Linked DNA regions of Homo sapiens: regions 2 and 3 are each linked to region 1. The links come from fine-mapping of genetic effects on gene expression. A gene starts in region 1. Each other region holds a variant in brackets. All regions are shown on one strand. Distances are between the middles of the regions. Region 1 holds the start of SYTL4 (synaptotagmin like 4). Region 2 overlaps SYTL4 (synaptotagmin like 4). Region 3 overlaps SRPX2 (sushi repeat containing protein X-linked 2).

Region 1 (2,500 bases):
CTTTTCTACTAGGGTGCTAAAAACCAAACAACCAAAAACGCAGAAAACTTCATCAAGGCCACGTCTCTGCATTAAACATTGTTCCCACAGCGACAAAAGTCTTAAGTCATTAATACCTCAATATTAATAGATTTATGAGAGGTGGGGGTGGGGAGCTTAAAGAGCAGAAAATAAGCCAGTTAAATATAGGAGGTCCAGGATGTACAGAAGACTCATTTTTGCCACAAATATACAAGGTCTAGGGTCAACCCTGCCAAGCACAGTACTCTGGAATTTTACGTCCTCTAATCCTGAAGAAGCAGGGTACTGGGGGAAGAAAAGCTTGATTAGAAAGTCACCACTTTTCAAGCCACCAGAATTCTAACCAAATGATTTCACCACCCCAAATCCCACCTCATTCAATGTTAAGGGTTGGAGGAACACCTTTTTCTGCCCCATTACAAACCAACACAGGAGACAGAAGCATTCTGTGCCCCTTCTGAGATCTCGGGGACCCTCCTCCAGTACCAGATCTCTCACAGCCTGCTTGAAGAGCGGCAATATAAAGCAGCTCCACAGCACACAGCCAGGTCCCCAGCCCCAAGCGCAGAGGGAGCCCACTGAGGCAGGACTCCAGCCAACCAGCCTCCAGCCTTTACCTGTGGCTGACTGGCCAACGCCAGAGAAGCCGCGATGTCGTAGGTCCGAAGAGAGTGCGGGTTAGCGACCCCGCTCGACGGCCGAGCGCTGTGAGAGGAACCCACGAAAAGGTGACTGGACGCCTTGGAGGGCGCAGTTCCCGCTAGGAGCTCGGCCCCGCCCCCGCCCCCAGGGCCAGCTCTCGGGAGGGGCACCAGCTCGGGCTGGCGGGAAAAAGCCCGGGCACTCCCCGCGAGGGGAGCCGAAGAGGAGAGGGGAGGCGGCTCCCAGAGGGGCACAGACCGCATTAGTGCTGGGTGGGTCAGGGAAGGGGCCAGAAGAAGCCCTGGAGAAAGAAAAGTGGCCGGGAGGGACCGCCCAAGCAGACGGGAGTCCAAGCCTGGGGATGCGGTCGGGAGAGGCGGACGGGGAGAGGGGAGACGCGGTCAGCTAGGGAGAAGGAAAAATTGGGGGACCAGAGAGCGGGTAGGGAAGACGCACGACCCCGAGATGGGGGTGGGGGCGCTTCAGCAGCGAAAAGGAGCTGGGGGTCCAGAAGGAGCACCGGACCGAGGGCGAGGGGCCGGCCGCTGGCTGTTGACCTACCTGTCACTTGCAACAGGTGCCTCCAGAGATCGAGAAGTCCCAGTGCCGGTTTCAAGGGAGGGTCTCCGGCTCCGGGAAGATCGCAACCCAGCTCCGGCAGCCGGCCCTTCTCACCCTCCCGGGAGGCGGAAAAAGCTGCAACTTTCCCTGGAGCGGGGAGGAGCTGGACTCTTAAAGGGGCCGCACAGCGCCCCGGGCTCCTTAGCAGGGGGCCACTCAGCCCAAAAGGGAGCTCTGGGACCCAAAGCCTTGAGACACAAGAGGAATGTCCTTCCAGGTTAGGAATGGGAGCCTGGGGACTGAGGATAGGGGTCTAACACTAGACGTGCCTCCTCACCCACTTACTTCCATCTGTTGGTCACTCTCTTAGACGGTGAAATCACCTGTCTCTTTCGTTCAGCTGAGTCAAAAGTTGTCAAATTGTCTCACACTTCTAAGAAGATAAAAGAGTATGAACTATCTAATTTGAGTAAATAAAATATAATACCATTCTGATCCTTTGACTTGTGGCCTTTTATGGCAAATAAATGTCTGTCTAAAATAGAAACGTTTTGGGCAAAAGCGTAGACTAAATTCATACATACACACTCAAGGACACAACTGGTTAAAATATCCAACTCACTAGTAATCAAAGAAAAGCAAATTAGAACAATAATGAGATTCTTTGGCAAAGATATTTTTTATTTTTTAATAACACTTAATGATGACAAAGTAGCCACCAAACAAGCTGTCTTAATTGCTGATAGCAGCATATGTTGGTTAAAAACCCTTTTAGAAAGCACGTGAGCAATATGTATCAATAGACTTGAAAATGTTTATACCTACCCAGTAATTGCAGATTCCTCTCCCTGCCTCTCCCATCCCTCTCCCCCTCATTTCACATCAGCAATTAAACATGCTCAAGTATCTACCATCTTAAAAAAAGAACCTCCCTACACAGGAGGTCCCTCTTCAGGTCCTCTTTATGGGCAAATGTATTGAAAATGTACTTCACAGGTGAAATTGCAATTTTTATTCCCTTACTTCTCATTCATTTCTTAGCTCTCAGCAGTCTGGCTTCCTTCCCCCACTGAAACTTCTCAATGAGATACACAAACAATGACCCTCAGTGTCAATAAATCCATAAATAAGTAAGGTATTTTTGGTCCTTATTTTGCTTGACTTCTCCCCTACATTTAACACCGTTAACCATTTCCTCGTCCTTGAAACTTTCTATGGCATCTATGACATTTTACTCTTTTGCTTTTCCTCCTACTCCTTTGCCCTCTCCTCAGTG
Region 2 (2,851 bases), 51 kb before region 1:
AGTCTAAATATATACTAATCTCATCTCTTTGAAAAAGTACTTCTAAAAGAAAAGCTCCCTTTAACCTTATCTCTTCTTCAAGCTATTCTCCATGTCTCTACTTTCTTTCACCATCAATTATCCTGAGGAAAAAAAGTCCACACTTACCACCTCTACTTCTTTGCCCATTCACTCAGCCTAGTTTCTAGTGAAATCTGGTTTCTGCTTTCACTGATCCACTGAAAATGCAATCTAATGCCAATTGGCCATGTCTTCTCAGACCTCATCTGGTCTGACCTCCCTGTAGTATTTCAATACTGTTGATAACCTCCGCCCCTTCTTCTTGAAGCTCTCTCCTGATAACCTTTTACTTCACTGGTGTTTCTTTCTCTCTTCATCCTTTAAAATGTTGCTGATCTCTCTGGTTCTATACTTGCCTCTCTTCTCTAGTCATGCTACATACCCTCATTGGGGATTTCATTGATTCCCCCAAACCTTCTAGATGTGACTCTGCCAAAGGTATATTTTTTCAAAGAACGTAGGCCACACATTGCCAAGGGATCAAGTGAAACTCTTTATCATTAAGTTCAAGGCCCTCTTCAGTCAGGCTCCCACCTCATGTCCAACTCCAGCCCCACACCTACATCTAGTGTACCAGAACTCCAGTCCCACTAAAATAAGGGACACACTCACATACAACCCCACATTACCATGCCTTTTTAAAACCTTTGCGCATGTTATCCCCTCTTCTGAAAATGCTCTTCTCTCCTCATCCTGCTCCTTTTCTGTCTGGTAAAGTTTTAAGATCCAGTTTTAATGTTACTTCTTCAAAGCTCTCCCAAATGTAACCAGACATAATTCACCACTCCTATATCTGTGTCCTTTTAGCACATGACTGTCTTTCTTGCAAAAACTTAAGCTCCTCAAGGGAAAGCAAATATGTTTTACTCATCTACACAACCGTAGTCACTAACACAGCAGCTGGCATGTTGAATTACTCTTCCCCAGCTTTCAACTTCCTGTCCTTCATACTTTACCACCTCTCCCAGCCACCCTTCTCAGCCCCAAAGTTTCTGTTCTCTTCTGCCCTCTTAGTAGCTTGCCACAGCTGGACCAAGACCAAGTCCATTTAATAGCCTAAAAAAAGAAAAGAATGCCAACCCTAAGGCATTCCCTTCTGTTTGAAAAAACGCAGAGAGGCTTCCTTAGTAAAGGAATCTCCCTAGCAGATCCAGGGAGCATCCCAATTTGGTCTCTCCAACAGTGCTA[A/G]CCAGTAGCCAGCACCGGCCTTGCACAGATCCTATGCAGAAGACTAAGCTACATCCAGGACCCCAAAGAAAACTCACTCTTTTTCCGGTCACCTCCAACAGGGGTTTTGGAGGCTGGGATGTATTTCAATGAAACCACCAACTCGCCTTTGTGTGATGGCAAGCCAGTCGGGGACTCAGCACTGATCTGAAACACAGGGAAACCCAACAGGTCAAGCTGGGCTTCTCAAGAATTGTTGGGACTTCTCTCTGAAAAAAATTCTAAAATTACCCCCCAAGAACAGCATCAGGGCAAAAGAGGATCCTTCTTCATATGAATATAATCCACCGTCCCTAGGCCATGGCAGCCACAGGTTTCTATGGCAGTTTCTTTAGAAGGAAATAGGGCAGAACCAACAAAGAGTCTTCTGCAATACCCACTATTATGCCACTTTGGGGGCATAGTTACTAGATTCCAAATACTCTCAAAGATCTTCAAGCAAGGTTGCCATACAAACTCACGAAGGACTGACAGCATGACAGAGAATCTTGCTACCAGCATTGTTAGTAATAGCCAAAAAGTGGAAACGACCTAAATGTCAATCACTATAGAAAGAGTTAAATGAATAATTGTAGTGTCCTGGTATGGCATATGGCATGCAGTCATCAAAAAAGAATTCAGTGAATCTGTACATGCTGACATGGAAAGATATCCAAGACATAGGGTTAAGTCAACAAAGCAAGATGCAGAAAAATGTTCCACTTATATTAAAATATATTCATAGTTGTACATGTGAATATAAATGTATGTAAATAACGATTGCCATTATCACTTATGTTAGCCCTTACTATGTACTAGGCACTGTTATAAGTACTTTAGGTGTATCATTTTGTTTGATGACTGTCTCTATGAGACAGGTACTATTAACTCCATTTTACAACTGATGGAAGAGAGGAACAGAGAAGCTAAGTAACTTGCCCAAGGTCACACAGTTAGTAATTGGCAGAGCTAGGATTCAAATTCAGACAGACTGGTTCCAGAGTCCGTGCTTTTAAACATTATACTACACTGCATAGAAAAACCCAGGATACGAACAAACTTATCCTCGTTTCCTCTAGGGAGGGCAACAGAATAGGGAAATGAAAGACAACTTTCCCTTTTTTACTCCATATTAACTTTTAGTGTCCTTTTAATGAGAATAGTATATATCATTTGTATGGTTTTTAAAAATACAAAGTATTTTTACAAGGTATTTTTAAAAAGAAGGCTTGCAGGGGAAAAAAAAAAAGAGGGCTTTCAGTCAGGTGCAGTGGCTCACATTTGTAATCCCAGCATTTTGGGAGGCTGAGGTGGGCAAATGCTTGAGTCCAGGAGTTCGAGACCAGTCTGGACAACACAGCAAAACCTTGTCTCAACAAAAAACACAGAAATCAGCCGACGGGGTGGTGTGGGCCTATAATCCCAGCTACTTGGGAGGCTGAGGCATGAGAATCACTTGAACCCAGGAGGCGGAGGTTGCAGTGAGCCAAGATCGCACCACCGCACTCCAGCCTGGGCGACAGAGCCAGACCCTGTCCCTCCCCCCAAAAAAAGAAAAAAGGAGGGCTTGCAAAGATTTGAGGGC
Region 3 (2,851 bases), 62 kb before region 1:
CTCTGGGGAGCTACAAGGGGCTGGATACCCACGTGGGAGAAAAAGCTACTTAGGAGGCTTCTAAAGATTGAATCTTAGAAGTTGCCTAGTGAATATTCAGAGGCCCAGGATGGAAGCAGTTTTACAAAAAAAAAAAAAAAGAAAAAAAAAAAAAAAAGGACCCTGGAGGGTCTAGACCAAAAAGAGGGCCTTATTCATCTAGAGATCCAAAAAGACTGACAAAGGCAACAGTTCCTTTGGAAGCAAGGGAGTAAGAACAAGAAAAGGAACCTGTCAGCAAGCATAGTGACTCTGAGGGTAAGGACTAGAGGGGAAGCCCAAAGATGAAACAGAGGTGGGGTGCCGGGGAGTATTCAAGGCCTCTTTAAACCTCACCCTGGTAAATGGCTAGCAGGTGATCCTGCAAGACAAGGCAGGACAGAGATCTGGGGTAGGACTGCAAGCTGCACTGCCCAGTGCAAGGAAGGTAACAAGGGGTAATGAAAAGAGCACTGGGCACAATTTTGGAGAAATCCTGGAGACCGAGCGAAGGCCCTGGCCAGGTAGCCTATTGGTAAAGAGCACACGCTTGGGCAGGGGGCATCAGTCCTCAGTTTGAATCTTGGCTCAGCATGTTATTGTCACCACCTGGCTTGTGAGGGGTGTTGTGAAGATTAGATTATGTCTACAAAGCATTAGGTTTGTGTATTCAATAAACAACAGCCATTATCATATCACATTGGCTATCCATCAAGAACTTATGTAATTTAAAACCTATGCAAAGCTAAATGATTATGTTCCTGCAATTTACTCATTGCATTTCTCTTCTCTACCCCACTTTGTGTAACTGGTTTCAGTAGAATGAAGGAAACACTGTTGGGGCAAGTACTTCAGGAATGACAGAGGGAACAGGTTGTTGTAGACCCCACAGTGTGATTGCGTGATCATTGGGGGAGAAGGAGCTCCTTTCCCACACTGCTTCATATGGTCCCAGGAGGAATCAGCCAAGTAGCCTTAGGTTTGAACGCACAGCTCTGTTGCATAAAATGTTCTGTCTCCCTCCCAGCAATCCACCTGTGGACTGGATTTGCGGCATGTGACCATCATTGAACTGGTGGGACAGCCACCTCAGGAGGTGGGGCGCATCCGGGAGCAACAGCTGTCAGCCAACATCATCGAGGAGCTCAGGTCCAGGCTGGGAGGCTGCCAAACTTGGGGGGAGGGGGGGCTGGGGCGGGGGGAGAAACCCTAGGCAGGACACTGGCAAAAGCGGACTATGGGGAAACCATCAGACACTACTCTCTTGCGGCACTTCTTGCGTTTGAACTCTTATGGATGCATTAGGTAAGACCAGAGAGTAGTTTCTTTACTTTGGTAGAACATCAGAATCAAATGAGGGCTTAAAATACAGATGACCAGGCCCCATCCTAAACCACCTTAGGAATGTGCTTTTACAAAGGCACCTGAGGGGACTCTGAAGCACAGCCAGGGCTGAGACAGTAAACCCAAACTTGACTCAGATAAGCCCCTGCTCTTGTTTTCTGGCCTCATCTCTTTGCCTTCAGTCTCCAAAGGAGCAAAAGCCATCTTTTTTTTTTTTTTTTTTTTGAGACACAGTTTTGCTCTTGTCGCCC[A/G]GGCTGGAGTGCAATGGCACGATTTCAGCTCACTGAAACCTCCACCTCCCAGATTCAAGTGATTCTCCTGCCTCAGCCTCCCGAGTAGCTGGGATTACAGGTGTGCACCACCACACCCAGCTAATTTTTGTATTTTTAGTAGAGACAGGTTTCGCCATATTGGCCAGGCTGGTCTCAAACTCCTGACCTCAGGTGATCTGCCCACCTCCGCCTCCCAACCTGCTGGGATTACAGGCATGAGCCACCATGCCTGGCCGCAAAAGGCATCTTTAAGCACTGAAATCTGAGTAAGATCTATCAAATCCTGGGGAAGAGAACATTAGAGGTGACAGGTGATGGAAGAAGTGGGTCTTTCTCATTATCTATCCAGTATCACCCTTCTAATGCCTTCACATATATTCAGGGCCAATAAAGCCATCACTGCTCTGTTTTAGAGCAGTGCCTCTAAATGATAGAGAAACTATACCTGCCTCTAGGGCACAGTCTCAGTGGGGACAGAAAGATTCAGTCCTAGTTAGAGAAGAGACTAGAAAACCCTCAGAGGGAGACTGCAGACTTGCAGCTACAGATGGAAGAGTTAACCAGAAGGTATTTATCAACCTAAGGGCTGCCATGTATGATGTGCATACACAGCACAGTCTCTGCAGCGGGTGGCCCCTGGAGTCACCCTGTGCAGCCTGCACAGCAATATGTGATAGCCCTGCTTAAAGGGGCCTACAATGAAAGCACCGCCTGTTAATAACAAAGTTGTTGCAGCTGAGGTGAGGAAGGGACAGCTTAGCAGAACTAGATGCATAGAGGCAGCAAGAGTAGAATCTGAACACAGAAAAACAAAGCGACTTGAGACAGGAAGTAGAGGGAATGGGGACCAGGGATGAGGTGGGGAAGGAATTAGTCCATGAGTGGAGCTGCAAAAAGTCAGAGGGTAGTAGAGCCTGTGGGGATGGGTGCCCAGACAAGGTCTCATACCTCCCTGGGCTGTTCTCTCTAGGCAATTTCAGCGCCTCACTCGCTCCTACTTCAACATGGTGTTGATTGACAAGCAGGGTATTGACCGAGACCGCTACATGGAACCTGTCACCCCCGAGGAAATCTTCACATTCATTGATGACTACCTACTGAGCAATCAGGAGTTGACCCAGCGTCGGGAGCAAAGGGACATATGCGAGTGAACTTGAGCCAGGGCATGGTTAAAGTCAAGGGAAAAGCTCCTCTAGTTAGCTGAAACTGGGACCTAA

The links. PIP is the estimated chance that this variant, and not a neighbour inherited with it, causes the effect.
Region 2: its variant is the best candidate, but not a certain one, in a credible set for the expression of SYTL4 in subcutaneous fat (GTEx, PIP 0.68).
Region 3: its variant is the best candidate, but not a certain one, in a credible set for the expression of SYTL4 in nasal epithelium (TOPMed, PIP 0.59).

What each region holds. Positions count from the first base shown.
Region 1 is chrX:100,730,780-100,733,279 of GRCh38, forward strand. It overlaps SYTL4 (synaptotagmin like 4), which reads right to left and starts at 1,342. Exons shown (of 20, transcript NM_001370165.1): 1 at 1,225-1,342; 2 at 639-726.
Region 2 is chrX:100,679,902-100,682,752 of GRCh38, forward strand. SYTL4 (synaptotagmin like 4) reads right to left here. Exons shown (of 20, transcript NM_001370165.1): 17 at 1,326-1,434. Among named protein-coding and RNA genes, the nearest start is that of SRPX2, 37 kb to the left of the region's middle. The variant A/G (reference allele first, on the strand shown) is at 1,249.
Region 3 is chrX:100,668,203-100,671,053 of GRCh38, forward strand. SRPX2 (sushi repeat containing protein X-linked 2) reads left to right here. Exons shown (of 11, transcript NM_014467.3): 10 at 1,046-1,167; 11 at 2,605-2,851. The coding sequence ends at 2,785. Among named protein-coding and RNA genes, the nearest start is that of SRPX2, 25 kb to the left of the region's middle. The variant A/G (reference allele first, on the strand shown) is at 1,614.